Homo sapiens: one gene and its partner. The protein of the gene in region 1 purifies or fractionates together with the protein of each later gene. This does not show direct contact. Each region holds a gene or a part of one and is shown in the gene's direction. Other genes may lie near its edges. The genes, in order: KAZN and ARHGAP5.

Evidence for each region.
Region 2: the proteins of KAZN (region 1) and ARHGAP5 purify together in Homo sapiens (affinity purification with mass spectrometry; 2 studies listed by BioGRID and IntAct, with this or other methods). This does not show direct contact.

What each region holds. Positions count from the first base shown.
Region 1 is NC_000001.11:14,601,540-14,608,815, forward strand, and holds part of KAZN (kazrin), read left to right. Parts: intron 1-7,276. UniProt on the Homo sapiens protein: Component of the cornified envelope of keratinocytes. May be involved in the interplay between adherens junctions and desmosomes. The function in the nucleus is not known.
Region 2 is NC_000014.9:32,072,932-32,080,484, forward strand, and holds the start of ARHGAP5 (rho GTPase-activating protein 5), read left to right. Parts: upstream 1-4,372; 5' UTR 4,373-4,504; intron 4,505-7,553. UniProt on the Homo sapiens protein: GTPase-activating protein for Rho family members.

The sequences.
Region 1 (7,276 bases):
CTGGTAGTTTCTTTTGCCATTGCTTTCATTATCCTAAAAAGAAGCCTTGAGTTCTCACACAAGTTAATTTTAAAGTGCAATTGATTGGGTTCCACTTGATTCTTCGTAATACACCTCCAGGGAGGCTCCCAGAGGCTCAGCTCCTCAGGGTTTCTGACTGTTCTTCCAAATTAGTCTTGTGTTTTCATTTTGTCTGTGTTGGTGCAGTTCAATGGGCCCAGACCCTAAGAGTGTTTAAGTGCTATTGAGTTATCAGTTTTCAAATCAAGGTTTTGAATAAAACGAGTATCTTTGCATTTCAAAATGCAACCGTGTAAGTCATCTTTTAACGAAAGGGCATTATGCACATATTAAATGCATGCTAATGTAACTTTAACAATATTAGTACAAATGGTTTTGGGAAAGAGTCACCTTTTGCTTCCTCTGCCAAGAGACTGTTAGATTCATTTTCAAATGTTTTTGTTTTTGTTTTTTAAATTCTTTTTTTAAATGAATGAAGCAAACTCATCAATCCATCATTGGCTGTTTTGTTCCAGGGATGACAACGGGCAGTAGGTAGGTTGGTATCCCCTTTTGATGAAGAAAATTTGGGTTTTCCTAGCGGGTTAATGCAGTGTGTCATTTAAACAAAATATTAACTTGGTTGGTACTCCCTGTGAGCTGGCATGGTTGCTATGTAACAGAATCTAGAAAGTGAACTGCTGAAAATCTGGGCTTTCGGCACTTCGGAGGATATTCTTTCGGAATCTGTGTTGAAAGAATTCCTGGCAGCCAGCCCATCTTGTCTCTCCCTCCTGCAACTGAGTTGGATAATCCTTAATGAGAATGCTGGCGTACAGTGCAGAGGGCGTCCGTGCAGGGTGACACATTTCAGAGCTCCAGAGGCTGCCTTTTGGGTCGGTGGGGTCACGGCAGCCTTTGACAGGTGGACAGAAGGAGGCTTGGAAAGAACAGAGCCAAGCATTTGTTCCAATTCATCTTGTTGTTGGTAGCCAGAGAAGGGATTTGTTTAAAGTAACATTTCTAAGCTGTTTTCCTCAGCATAACATCTCTGGGAAAATGTGTTTAAAATGCTTGCTGTTCTTTGAGGGGAAAATGTAGCAGTTTGTTTCTCTGAAAAAGTTTTATCAGCTGATGAATGACTAATATTAGATTCAGTTGGTTGCTTTGCTATGCATAGAACAAAACAATTAAGTGCTATGGTACCCAATTCAAATAGGTGTTAACTGTATATAACAAAATACTTAATGCCCAGTAGGATGTATGCCTACTGTCATTAGTTTTCTTTGTTAAAGAAATAATTGTATTTGTATTCCTATGCAAGTGGACGTGCTGATAGCATCTTTCTTTGGTGTGGAGGACTTCCTGCCTACTGCATTTGTTAGAAGGGGATGGAGGCAAGGGTCGGTTTCCTGTACCTTTGTACATTTCCATAAATGCGTGCAAGTTGTATTTTTCTCTCCAGGCATTAAAATAGGCTGTTACTTAAGGCCTGACAGCTCTCATCTACCATTACTACAACACTGGAAACTCTTTCGTGAAGTATAAATTACCTTTGGAGTGAATTGAATGTGTGAGTAGTCTGTGGAGACGCTAGACACTGTCGCTTTGCAAAGTAAGTTCTGTCTTTTGGCATCCCCTTCTCAATTCATTCTGCCTCTGCTCTTGTTTTCCTAAGTAGACTTTTATCTTTTTTGAGAAAGAGAATTTTCAAATGGCAGAGAGGATGGAACAAAATGTTGGGGAATCTCGGGCCTTCTGTTAGCTTGCCACTAAGTTACAGAGCTCAGCAAGTAGCCTGCGCCATGGTTTTCCAGCCAGATCAAGGGGTTAAAATAGAGTGTGTCTTTTCCTAACCTGTCATGGGATGGGGATTCAGTCTTCTCCCTGAAAATTGTCATGTGTGGTCACAAAGAGATTACTTACAGATCAGTACAGTGTGGTTGAAATTACTTATTGATTGGGGATTATTTACTATCTTTCCATTGTCTTTGGAAAATGCCTTCAAAGGACCTCTTAAGTCAAGTCTCTGATTCTGGTTAATTTCATGCTTCCATTGTGCACTTCATGATTTTTAGTGGTTTTCCAACACCTCTTTGATGCACCCCAGAAGTCTGAGCTGACCTGACTCATCTAACAGGAGCCTGGTCACATATCTTTCCAGGGTAAGGCATGATAGGCCCTCTCTCCATCCCTTTACCCTCTTACTCCTCAAGAAGACTGTTGGCACTTTTTAGGAATCCTATAGGGTTATAATGTGTGACTTCCTGGCTGCCAGTGTGTTTGTAGCAGATGGGCTTGGCAGGTGGCAAGAGCTCATTGGAACTTTGCCTGCTCACCGTGCATATCATATGGGGCCCAGAAGGTCAAGCTTGGGATTTGGCCACATTCACTGCATGTTTTCTTTATGTATTATAAATCTATATATTCATTCCTGGGCTATGTAGGTAAGGACAGTGAAATCAACACGAACTCCTCTGTTCTTTCCATACCTTAATGGTTTGCCTGAACATTGGTCCCTGGCTTCTTACCCCCTGCCATATATCAGGGGGTTCTGCCTGCTGAGCCCAGAGAATGGGTTTTTAAGTGATGTTGCACGTGGAAATAGGTCTCAGTGTTTGGGCTGCATATTAGGGTGAGTAGCACAAAATATGGCAGGAGTGTCACCGCCAGCAGTCATTGCACTGCCTTGGTGCCTTGAATTGCAGGCATAGTGGGTTCAGAAAGAATGATTTAGGAAAAGACATCTTTCCCGAAGCCAACAGGGTGGCCATCCACAGGGGCAGATCATACCTGACGATTCATAGCAGCTAAGAGTTCTGCTGACCCCTGTCACCACTCTCCAGTTCCCCTGCCACCACCCTCCAAATCCCCTGCCAGGCCCATCTCAGTTGTGGAGAAGCTGGAAGAAGATCAGGGAAAGGAACGCCTTCTTCCTCCCCGTGTGGTTGCACGACACCAGAACATTCTTGCTTGTTTGATGCAACCTTGATCCAAGTGGTGGAGGCGAGGTTGTGCTCTGTGGGCACTCCTGCTACCCCCTTGGAGTCCTAGGCTGCTGGAAACATGAAAGAAGCTGAACATAGTTTTAATGAGTTTGGCAAGAACAACTGTTTGAGCAGGTGGCTGCTGTGTGGTACAAGATCATTGGGGCTAAATTTATTCTGCGGGCTTTGTTGGCTGGGTCATGTCAGACCCTTGGGTCAGGCTTCTGAAAGGTCCCTGCCCCTTTACTTTCTGATGAATTGAGACCTCAGCACAGGAGCTCAGATGGAGCTTGGAACAGGCAGTCCTGCAAGCAAAGAGCCCCAGGGCCTCTGCCCACTTCTCCAGTCAGGCTGGAGAGGGGAGAGAAGTTGGGGAGAGGAGGTGTCCTGCCCAGCTCCCTTCTCCTCTGTCCTCTTCCACCACAGCAAGCGCTATGTTACCTTTGTGGGGATGTAAAGGCCTTCCATTCCCAATATTACCTCTGCTCTACAGATTGTGTGAAGTAATGAGTCATTAAGAACAGAGCGCCCCTTTTAAAGAAGCTGATATTCTCCACTCATCTTTGCATACCTCACTATTATTATTCTCAGAACTTACCTTTTGGGCATGCCACAAGACGCTGGGGATTCTGGGACCATCTTGAAGCCTGTAGTTTCTTTCTCTTTGGTCAAGGTGAATAGTTTAATGTAGCAGTAAATGAGAACTGGTTTCATTGCTTTGGTCAAACTTTTTAATAAATAATAATATGCACTTACAATATATCAACTTCCCTGGCAAGCGCTTAACATGCATTATTGAATCCTGAGGCCAGCGAGGTGACAACTATAGCTGGCCCCCACCCAGCACAGTAAAAAATCTGTCTATAACTTTTGACTCCCCCAACACTTAACTCCTACTAGCCTACTATTGACCGGAAGCCTTATGATAACGTAAACATAGCATAATATAAACAGTTAACAGATAACATAAGCAGTTGACTTATACATACTTTTATGCCCCATGTATTATGTATTTTATAATTAAGTAGAGAAATCAAGTAAGCTAGAGAAAACAAAATATTAAGAAAATCATAAGGAAGAGAAAATATATTTGCTATTCATTAAGTGGAAGTGGATCATCATAAAGGCCTTCATCCCCATCATCTTCATGTTGAGGAGGAGGAGGAAGAGGAAGGGTTGGTCTCGCTGTCTCAGGGGTGCCAGAGGTGGAAGAAAATTCACATATAAGTGGACCTGCACAATTCAAACCTATGTTCTTCCAGGTCAACTATGTAATGCCCGTTTTTCAAAAGAGGAAACTGAGTCTCAGAGAAACTAAATCACTTGTTTGCAGTGAGATAGTGATGACTACAATGGGGATGATAGTAGCAGACTTCAGCATAGTGTGTACTCTGAGCCAGATACTGTTCTAAGTGATTTTCTGGATTAATGCATTTCAGGAATGCATTCAGTCTTCATAATGACTTATTGGGCAGGTACCATGCTCGTACCCATTTTCCATAGGAGAAAACTAAGGCACAGAGATGACACATTTACTTGCCAAAGGGCATATGGTCAGGAAGTGACCAAGCTCTGGCTCTAGAGTCTGTGTTCTTATTCATTCCACTTTGACATCCAGGATCACTCAACTGCCACATGACTGAGCCAGGAATGCAAACCCACTAGGTCTCTCTGCTGTTTAAACCTGTGTATGCTTCTCTGCCCTGCCTCCTAAGTCAGAAGCATCCTTTGGCTTGTTGCATTAGGGAGGTTCAGGGAGCTGTAGCCTTGTCTCTACTCCTGATTAAACTCCTGTTTCCCTAGACTGGTGGTAGTTCCTGGGTCCTTACGGTAAAGTCTTATGCTTGAGAGTTAGGCAATCAACCAGCCTCTCAGCCATCAACTGACAAAGAAGGGACTGGATTCTGTTTGCAAGACTGGCAGCCCAGGGGCCACTTATCACTAATAAAAAGGACTATTTTGATCCTGGACTTGGAGCCTCCAATTTCTTGGACTTCGTGTGTTTCATCTCTCTTGGGAAGGATGAGTCCAGGCAAAGCCAGAGTCTTGTGGCAGCCTTATTCTCCATCCATCCCATGTCTTTTCTTTTGCCTGAGTTCTCTCTCTGTGGCCTCAGTAGCCTCTAGCACCCCAAGACCATGCCCAACAGAGGACTTATTAACCTCAAACAGATACCTTCATGCTAGGGTTTCTTAGCCCCAGTACTATTGACATGTGGAGCAGATAATTCTGTGTTCTCAGGGGGCTGTCCTGTGTGTTGTAGGATATTTAGCAGCATTCCTGGCCTCTACCCACTAGATGACAGTAGAACCCTTCACACTCCAGTTGTGACAACTAAAAATGTCTCCAGAAGTTGCCAAATGTCCCCTTCAGGTCAAAATTATCCCTGGTTGCGAACTGCTTTTTATGCAGTGGTGTTAGGGGAGACTTCAATTGTTAGTCTTGGAATGACAGCTCTGTGAGGTCAGGGAGTTTTATCTATATTTTACTGTATCCTCACCACCTAGAGCAGTGCTTTGTACATAATGTAAGAGCTCAGTAAATACTTGCTGAATGAATAGATGGATGGATGGGTGAATACTAAATGATGGGGTGTGTGGACTTTGGTCTACTTTATACATGGTATCATGAGGATCATTGATTTAATGATAGATGATTTTAATTGAGTGCTTACATACCATATAACAAGCACTGTTTCAAATTCTTTACCTATAATACCTCAACGAATCCTTTAAACCACCTTATGAGGTAAGTACAGTGTTTGTCATTTTACAGATGAGAAAGTTGAGGCACACAAAGGTCACATGACTTGCCCAGGGTCACCGAGCTAGCAAGTGGCAGAGCCAGGATACAAACACAAGCCAGTGTGATTCCAGAGACTGCCTGGCGTCTCCACCAGGATGCTCTGGAGCTTGGCATCCTTTTTCCCATTACTGCCCAAGAAACTGTTATTGTTCTAATGTTGGCATTGTGGCAATTATAATTAGGATTTGCATGTCAGACACTAACTCATTCATCGTCAATCCTCAGAGTTCTGCTGGACAAAATATGCTCTGTCACTTCTGAAGAATCCGTAGCCAGCAGGGACTCCTGTCTGGCCAGAGGTAAGAGGACTGCTTAGTGCTGAGCCATGTTCAAACGTGAGAATCTCTTCTCTCTGCCTCACTGCTGGGCTGTGACCAAAGAGAATCGCAGAGGGGACTTGACTTTCCTACCTTTATGGGAAAGGGAACAGTGGACCCCAGAGCTTCTTAGTGGGGTTATGGCTCATTTTTAGCAAAAGGGATGTTCCAGGATCAGAACTGGGGAGGCAGAGTGACTTTTGAGATCATCCAAGGGGGCAATAAGAGCAATAGCCAGTGTTCGTTGAGGCTTTCCCAGATACTGTGATGAGCTCAACAAACATTTCCTCAATTTACCTTCATATTACAGAGAGTTAGATATTGTTATCCTCTCCATTCCACAGATGAAGACATTGAAGCTTAGAAGGGTTAAGTTGCTTTTCCAAGCTCTGGAAAGTAGTCCACTAGTGAACAGAAAAACAGGGGATTAGAACACAGGTTCACACGTTTGACTGACCCTGAAATCTGCTCGCTTCGTTAAGACGAGAATATCCAGATGTCACTATCAGGTAGCCCAAAGACATGCCAGTAGGACGGTTTTGCTATTTTGCTTAACGCCTTCCCTTCCTCTTTTTTTCTTCCTTTCTTCTTCCTCGCTTCTCTCTGTCTCCATCTATTGTGAGAGATTGGGCACATAGGCCCAGAGACCACAGATTTAATAAGATGGGGACTGAGTTATCTTGGACTCACAGCCTCATAGGTATAACTGACATGAAAACATAATTTTCTAATAAAGGTCTAGATGGGTGTAATGGAAAAATAGACAATGAAGTGACAAATACAGGAGCCTTCACAGATGTGCATGACAATGGTAATACGTAATAAAAACAGGCTGGAAAATACACTAATTTCACCACTAGGGGTTAAAACTGGCTGTGATAGATTATTAAAAAGTACAACTGTTTGGATAGATTGGAATTGGACACTGCAGAGAACAGCTACTACCTGGGACCTTCTCCCCCAGAGAAAGAGCGCGTCTTAAGGAGAAGGAAGATGTGGATGATACTGGGTTTAGATCTTGAATAATAGCTTTTCTGTCCTCTTTTCAAAGAGAGTTAAAAAAAAAGATGTGAATTTCAGGACAGGCATACCTGCATCTTTTAAAGTAAGCTCACCCGTTGTATCATCTTCGCAGCCAGGTCTCAGACTTCTGGTCAGCGGCAACAA
Region 2 (7,553 bases), on another chromosome or scaffold:
GGTGGGATCTGAATGAATTGTTTTTCCTTTAAAAGGAGTCTGCATTACAAATAATCTTTACAAAATACGAATTATTTAAAAATAGTGTGCTGCTTTCAGTATTTCAGTTATGTCCTAGGACTAGAGTTTCATGAGCATGACATTTTAAAGCTAGACTCTGATACCATCTTTGGGATTTCAGTCTGAAAATACAGTTCTGGAATATCAACAGAACAAGGCTGTGTGGAACAAAATGCCAAGAAGGTCAATGCACTACTTTCCTCCTGTTCCAGTCCCATGCTCACAATTACCTTAACTCTTGTCAAAATATTTTCTACAGTAACAGCCAAGACATAATTAGCACCTTTTCTTCATGTTGAAAATATCATTGGTACCCATAAAACAAATTTGGGGAAAGCCCTTAAGCACCTTAATGCAGCAAATGGCTACTGTGGATTGATACACCATTATTTGCCTAGCTGAAGGATTAATATCCCATCTTATCCTGCCTTCTTCCTCCCCTCAAGTAGGCCTAATTGTATGAGATAGAGAGAAAAAGAGAAGTCTAGGCAGGAGATGGGGATAAGGTAAAGAGTGGAAATACAGTTGGAAATTAAGCAAATATCTTACAAGTGTTTTGGCTATTTAGCTATTTACATCATTATTCTCCATCCTCTTTGTGTATTTTGTCTGTAATCAAGGTGATATTCTGACATAGGTTGTTCTCCAAAAGCCTGTCTTGTATCAGACAGGCTAAAGTATTGGTCAATTCTGTCATGAGTGGTAAGGCCCTTTATTTGGCTTTTCATATGTTCCTGATTGAGACTACAGAAGCCAAAGTTGTTATGATCAAAGATTTCCAGCAGGGGGTGTAGCTGCCTCTATAGGGTAAGTTCTTTTGAAGCCACAACATATGAAACATTTGAATATTGCAGTATTACCACTAATGGTAGAAGCTGGAATTATGATAACTTTTTTTATGACTGTCATGTCTTTTGATCTCAAAAAGACCATGCATATTAATACTTTATTAGGATGTGATGAAGAACTAGAGATTTATGAAGAAAATTTAAATTAAAAACCGAAAATGCCTGACAAATCTTATTCTAATTTTTTCAAAGTAAACGAGGAACAAAGAGTCCAGTTATTTTAATTATCCAGTACAGCAGAAGAGAGGCTTAACTTTTTTATTCTAGATAAGAAGAGTAGTTGATTTGAGAGGGCTTGTTAATATTTATTCCATTTCCATTTCTGTCCGATATTTGTGCGCGCGCATGTGTGTGTGTGTAAATAAGTTACCTATTTTCTTAAAAATTATCCTTTTGAGTAGGGAGGGTGGGTGTTTTAAAGCTTTTTCTCTGAAGTCTTGGCTCCTGATCAATTTTTAAAGATGCCATCTTACATATTTTTCCTCCTGCTCTTTGATGCCTTTTATTTATGGATATATAGGCATTATTAGCCACAGAATTGTGGCCCCCATTTCAGATTTTTATTGATACAGAAAACTCTATTTTTTGAGAAGAGCAAATTACATACAATAACTTATTTGTACTGGTAAACACCTTTAGACTATTAGTATTAATAAGAAACGAAGTCCTAAATTTCCAGGCTCCCTAAATCAAGATAAAGAACTGAAAATAATGTCGACTATGAAAATCATTGTTTGGAAATCGTGATCTTTTTTTTTTTTTTAACGTCTTCTGGTGTCTTCATTATAAGAAAATAAATGAGATTTCAAGTCTTCCCTGCCTCCAGTATCATGTCCTATAACTGAACATTACACCTTTTTAACGTTTTCTTTAGAAGCCCTGATTTATTTGGCTTTGGTTTATGTTGATACATGTCCATGATTATTAAAATTTCTGATTATTTAGGACATAATTTTTAAGGTATCTTTAGGGTGTACACTCTATAGTACTTAACATCTTATTCAGGTTATGACTTTGAACTGCATCATTATAACACTAAAAAGCAACCTTGGCTAACTTCAGTACCTTACGTAACATAAGAAATAAAGAATAACTTGAACTTAAAATACTTTTTATATGTTTACTTCGGGTATTCTTAAGGGCTTTCAGTACAAAGATAAAAACATGCGTTGGAATGCATCAACATTCCAACTTACATAAGTGGTGTAGATACCTATGGCATTAGTACCACATTTTGATGGTTGGACCACCCACCAAATTCCCTTCTCTCCTTTTTTACTTCTTTTTCTTTCTGTTTGCTTTCCTTGCAAGTTTCCTTCCGCATCCTTCTTTCCCACCTACAATTTGTAACTGAAAGAAAGAAGTAGCTACAGACCTTACCTAACCTACTCTTAACCTACTTGGTAGGTAGGGTTCAGATGCAAGGGAGTGGCTCGAATAAAGCATTTTAGTTATGCCTTTTAGAAATTAGGGAGCAAGAGATATATAGAAAAATTAGAAATGTCTCTTCTACCTTTATTAAGTCTACCTTTGAGAAATATGAAGGGCAGGAAGACGGAAAAACGAACAGAACTTCTGCTGGAATATTGTGACAAATTTACTGACAAATATTTTCTAATAGATTTTTACCAACAGGCAGTTTTTGTTTTCTTTACTGACAGACCGTAAATGTACTTCTGGTTGGCAGCAGCTGCATCATTATAACACAAAAGCAACCTTGGCTAACTTCAGTACCTTATGTAACATAAGAAATAAAGAATAACTTGAATTTAAAATACTTTTTATATGTTTACTAACATTAAACTATTTTCAATGCAGGAAATAAATATTTCCCCAAAGAGGAATCCCCCCTCAATTACTTTCTTTCAGACTTAACAAATTGGAGTAGATGTGGTTTTGCTCATTCTTTTATCTGCTGGCAACTATTTTAAGTCTCCTGTGCAAGGCAGATTCCGATGACCTCGGGAAAGTCACAGGACCTCAGTTTCTTCAATGGTAAAAGCAAAGGCAGTGGTTTCTACCGTCCTTTCTCACTGCACCATTCAGCGTCAGTGCCCTCATGAGAAACACACCCAAAGCCCAGTGTGCTCTACCCCAAAACTTGTGAAATTTCTAGAGTCTCAAAAAAGTGAATATGTTTAAGGCAGTATAATAAAAGCCAGGTGGACGACAGTTCCTAAAGTTAGGCTGGTAGTGGCGTGAACAGGGGTCTTTTGGGCCACCCTGAGACCCGCCCCACGGGGCTTCTCGATCCACGTCTTGGCTTCTCGCTCCACTTTCACAGAACGTACTGAATCAGGGGCCTGCATCCCCGTGCCGTGCCGAGCCGACGGAGAAATGGACTCCTCTTCTCGCTCCTGTGGAGTTTCGTCTTCTGGGTGAGTGTGGCACCGGGTCCTGGGCGGGTGATGTCTGTAGTTGGCGAGCGATCCTCAGCCAGAAAACTGGCTGCGCACACAGGCGCAGACACGCGAACATGTTCCTGCGAACGAGCTTGGGCGCATGTTTTCCTCCCTTGCTTTCTTTAATGCTCAGAGACCATAAGGGGATTTATCGAGAAGCATTCGGTGCCCATGCCCGGTTTGGAACCGCGAGCACAATATCTGGTTCCTTTGCAGTACGGTGGTTTGCTCTTGAGTTACGACCAGAAACCGGAACAGAAGGAAAGGGAGAAGCAGGGGAGGTTCGGGGACGACGGCGCTCCGGGCAGTAAGGCAGTAGCTTCCAAAGCGTGGAGGATGGGACTGAGGAGGAGCAGAATACGGAGAAAGAGGGAAGCTGAGGAAAAATACTCACGCCAATGGGTAAAAGGGAAAAGGTGAGAAGGAATGGAGTAGGGGAGGGAACCAATGGTGGGAGAGGCGGAGGAAGAAGGGGGAGGGGTAGAAGCCAATGGGGGAGTGGAGGGGAGGGAGAAGCAGAGGGGAGGAGGGAGCGGGGACGCGAGCGAGGACGCGGCCCCGCGCGCTCGTCCCCCTCCCTCCGACTGGATAGCTCGCGCCTTCCCAGGCTCCCGGGAGACGAGGGCAGGGGCGGGGCCGTGCCGGGTGCGCGGCGCGGGAGGCGTCGCGAGGTGAAGGGGCGGGGACGGGGGATTGTGGGGAGGGCAGCGCGGGTTCGCGCGCGCGCGCGCGTCCCGTCCAGGCTGCGCCGCCGCGCCGCCGCTCCGCCCCCGGTCGGGTGTGTGGCTGCGCGCGCCGGGAGAGATGCTGAGGTAAAGTTCGGGAGAGAGGGAGAGAAATCCGTCAGCGCGAGGGAGCCCGAGTGGCCGCCATTACTGAGCCCGGCGCGGCGGCGGGCGCTGGGGAAGGGGGGAGGGACGGGCCGCCGCTGGTGGCGGGGAGGGAGGGAGGGAGGGTGGGTGAGCTGGCTGCGGGAGCCGTGGGGCTCAGGGTTTCGGGGCGTGTGTGTCGGGGAGGGCGGGGGGAGGTGGCTGAAGGGACGCGCCGCTCGGTGAGCGCGCCGAGGAAGAGAGGCGAGCGGAGAGTGGAGGAGGAGGCGGCGGCGGCGGGAGCGGTCCCCAGGAATGTCGCTGCCGCCGCCACCGCCGGGGCCGCTGCCGTTGAGGAGGAGACGGAGGAGACCGACGTTGTTAGGTAGGACCTTGCGGACCCCGCTCCTCCAAGCCTGCCTGCCCCCTCCCGGACGGGGACCCTCCTGCGGCTAGCTGCCCCGCTCGGTCGCCGCTGCCGGTTGTAACCAGTTGAAGGGGCTGGGGCCCCGCGGCCGCCGAGGGGAGCCTGGCGCTGCGCTCGGTTTTCGCAGGCCGGGCGGGCAGCAGCTGCAGCGTTAGGGATACGTTCGGCGTGAAGGGCAGAGAGGCCGGGGGAGGGGGTGCTTTCTCCACAGGTGACGGGGCCAGGGTCGGCGGAGGCCTGATGCTGGCCGGGGATCGCCGGCCCCGCCAGGCGTCCGCTCTCGCCCGCCGCCTCACTTGCTCGAGTCTCGGGTGGTCCGTCGAGAGGGGAGGTGGCGGTGTCCGTTGGCCGGGTTGCTGCTGTTAACGAGTTCCACCTGGAAAGGGTACACGGGGCGGGTGCAGATTCGCGGAAACACAGTCTCGGTTGCAAACTTAAACGCCTTGTAGGGGGGATCGGCCCTTTCACTTTCCCTCATCTCCTCGACTCCTCCCTGGGTTCTCTTCACCAATTTTCCATCTGCTTTGAAGCTTGGAGTAAGATATGAGAAGTTGCACTGCGCATCCAGAGCCCAGAGTCCTATGGGCTGACTGCGACTGGGTTGAGGCTTTGATACTGAGTTTTCGCTAGAATAACCTCCAGATTCTTCCTCTCTTTCCACTAAAGAAAAGTATCGGGGTGGGGGTGGGGAGCCGCGCGGGAGCGCGCGCGCACTTATCCACACAGAAATACTCCCTCTCACCCTCCCTCTTCAGCGTTATTAGAAATGCAAGAGAGCTGGAGGCTCGGGGTGTAGCTGAGGTTGAAAGGTGCACGGAAGTAAGGGCAAACTGTTATTAGGCCGTTTAGTAAAATCCCGAAAAAGTTGTAGGGGAGACGCTTATACTTCTACCATGTGATAGAAATTCGGATTTGGCCATCGCTTAATAAATGGGAATTCAAATATTTTGAGATAGAGCAAGATAGGCATATAGATGGGTTTGTGCTTACGTTTTAAGTTTAAATTCTTATCGATCATTTATTTTTTCCTTTGTGATAGGCAGGAAACTGAATTTTTTTTTAAATGTTCAGGTGTAAAACAGCAAAATGCTTCGCTGTATTTACTAGTACTTGCTTATGTTGCTTTCTACAGGTAGGGGCGGGGGGCGAGTTTGTCAATTCCACTTAAATCCAGAACCAGTATTCAGTTAGAATGTTAGGTGGTGTTTATCCGCATGAAGGATCTCGTTCACTTCATGGGAGCTTGCTCTACATTTCCACTTAAAATGGTTCTCCTAACAAAAATTTCATCTAGATGCAGCGATTAGACATTTGGAATAATGTTTGGTTTAAAAATACGTTAATGAAACCTTTTGCTGTCAATTCTAGTTTATTTGTACTGTAATACGATAAAACGGTATTCTTATTCAGTGTTTGTAGATAAGTATTACTAACCGTCTAGGTAACCTACTAGATAGTTTCTTGAGTAAGATTTTGCTTTCATTTTAAATTCCTTTCTCATTTTTTGCTTTCATCTATCCTTTGTATACTAATTGACCTCCATTACCTTTATCTGTAGTACAAAGAGCGGTAAGTATGTGTCACCAAAAACTTGCAAAGACACTGGAGCAATTTATGACTAAACGCACTGGAGTGAAAGGCTGCGCATACCTATGCTTGTAACTTTCAAGAAATAGCACTATTGATCTAATTGACTTAAAGCAGAATCAGACGGTACAGATGATTAAATAACTATTGATTTGGTTGTCTTGTGTAGGCTGTGTTTTTAAACCTAGATCAACATGTCTTATTTTGCCATTCTTTGTACATTAATTATTAAGAGTACTGGGGAGTGAGGTGGGTTACACTTTGATGTAAGAATTGCGGCAGAATTCTGTTATCTTTATGAGTTTTGTAGTGTCCCTCCCCATTTAAACGACCTTAGCAATTTTTAAAATGTGTTGCAAAATTATTACCTTAATTCTGTCACAAGATACTTATCCTAAATGTTTTGAAAACCGTCTCCCCTTCTTATTTGTGTTTGAAAAGCATATTAGCACAGTCATTTTTTTGGAGAGTTATTTTGACCTTGAAAGTTAAGATTATTTAAGGAATGAATATTGTATTTGCATTCCTTTTTTGGATTTGAAGTAGCGATAATAAGTTTTCTAACTCACTTTTTTTAATTGAAGAAAAAGTTAGGTCTCATAAAGACTTTACTAAACTTTACCAACATTGGCAGGATGTAAGATGAGTGTTGGCCTTTAGTGGTCACTTCTTAAATATGAAATGGCATAATAGAGATTTTCTTGGTAGCTACAGAATAAGTTTTGTCGCAACTGTAGTTTCCATAGATACTATTTTAAGAACTATTTATTTGGGTTGTATGGTCCACAGTTTTTTCTTTGCATACCAAGAAGGTGTGTAGTAATATAATTGGCTGAAGAAGCATTGTACAGTGTTGTTTTAGTGATGTCTATGTTCCTAAAAGATACTTGTATTATATATTTAAAGTACACCAAGGGAATTTAATTTCTAAAAGACCTGTGAAGAAACATCAGTAGATTCATCATTCAGTAATTTGAGTAATCAGGCTCTTGTTTTAAGTGCAGGCTTTTGTCGATTATTTTATTGAAATAGGAAAAACCATATTAGAAATTAAGAAAAATGCTTCAATGCTAAGAATTTTAAGTATGAACTTTAATTGGTTTTCAAACTCTGTTCCTTGGATTCCTGTGGGTTTTTTTCCTAGATGCCTTGAGACTTCCTATGACAACCCACCCTCCCAAACCAGGACAGCTTCTATTTTCATGTATTAAGTGTATTGTATTTAAATATAAGAATATTTAACTTAATTAAATATAAGAAAAATATTTATTATTTAAATATAAGAAAAATAACTAATGGGTACTAGGCTTAATACCTGGGTAACAACAAACCCCCTTGACATGAGTTTACCTTTAAAACAAACCTGCACATCTACTCCTGAACTTCAAAGTTAAAAAAAAAATTCCCCTTAAAAAAAAAC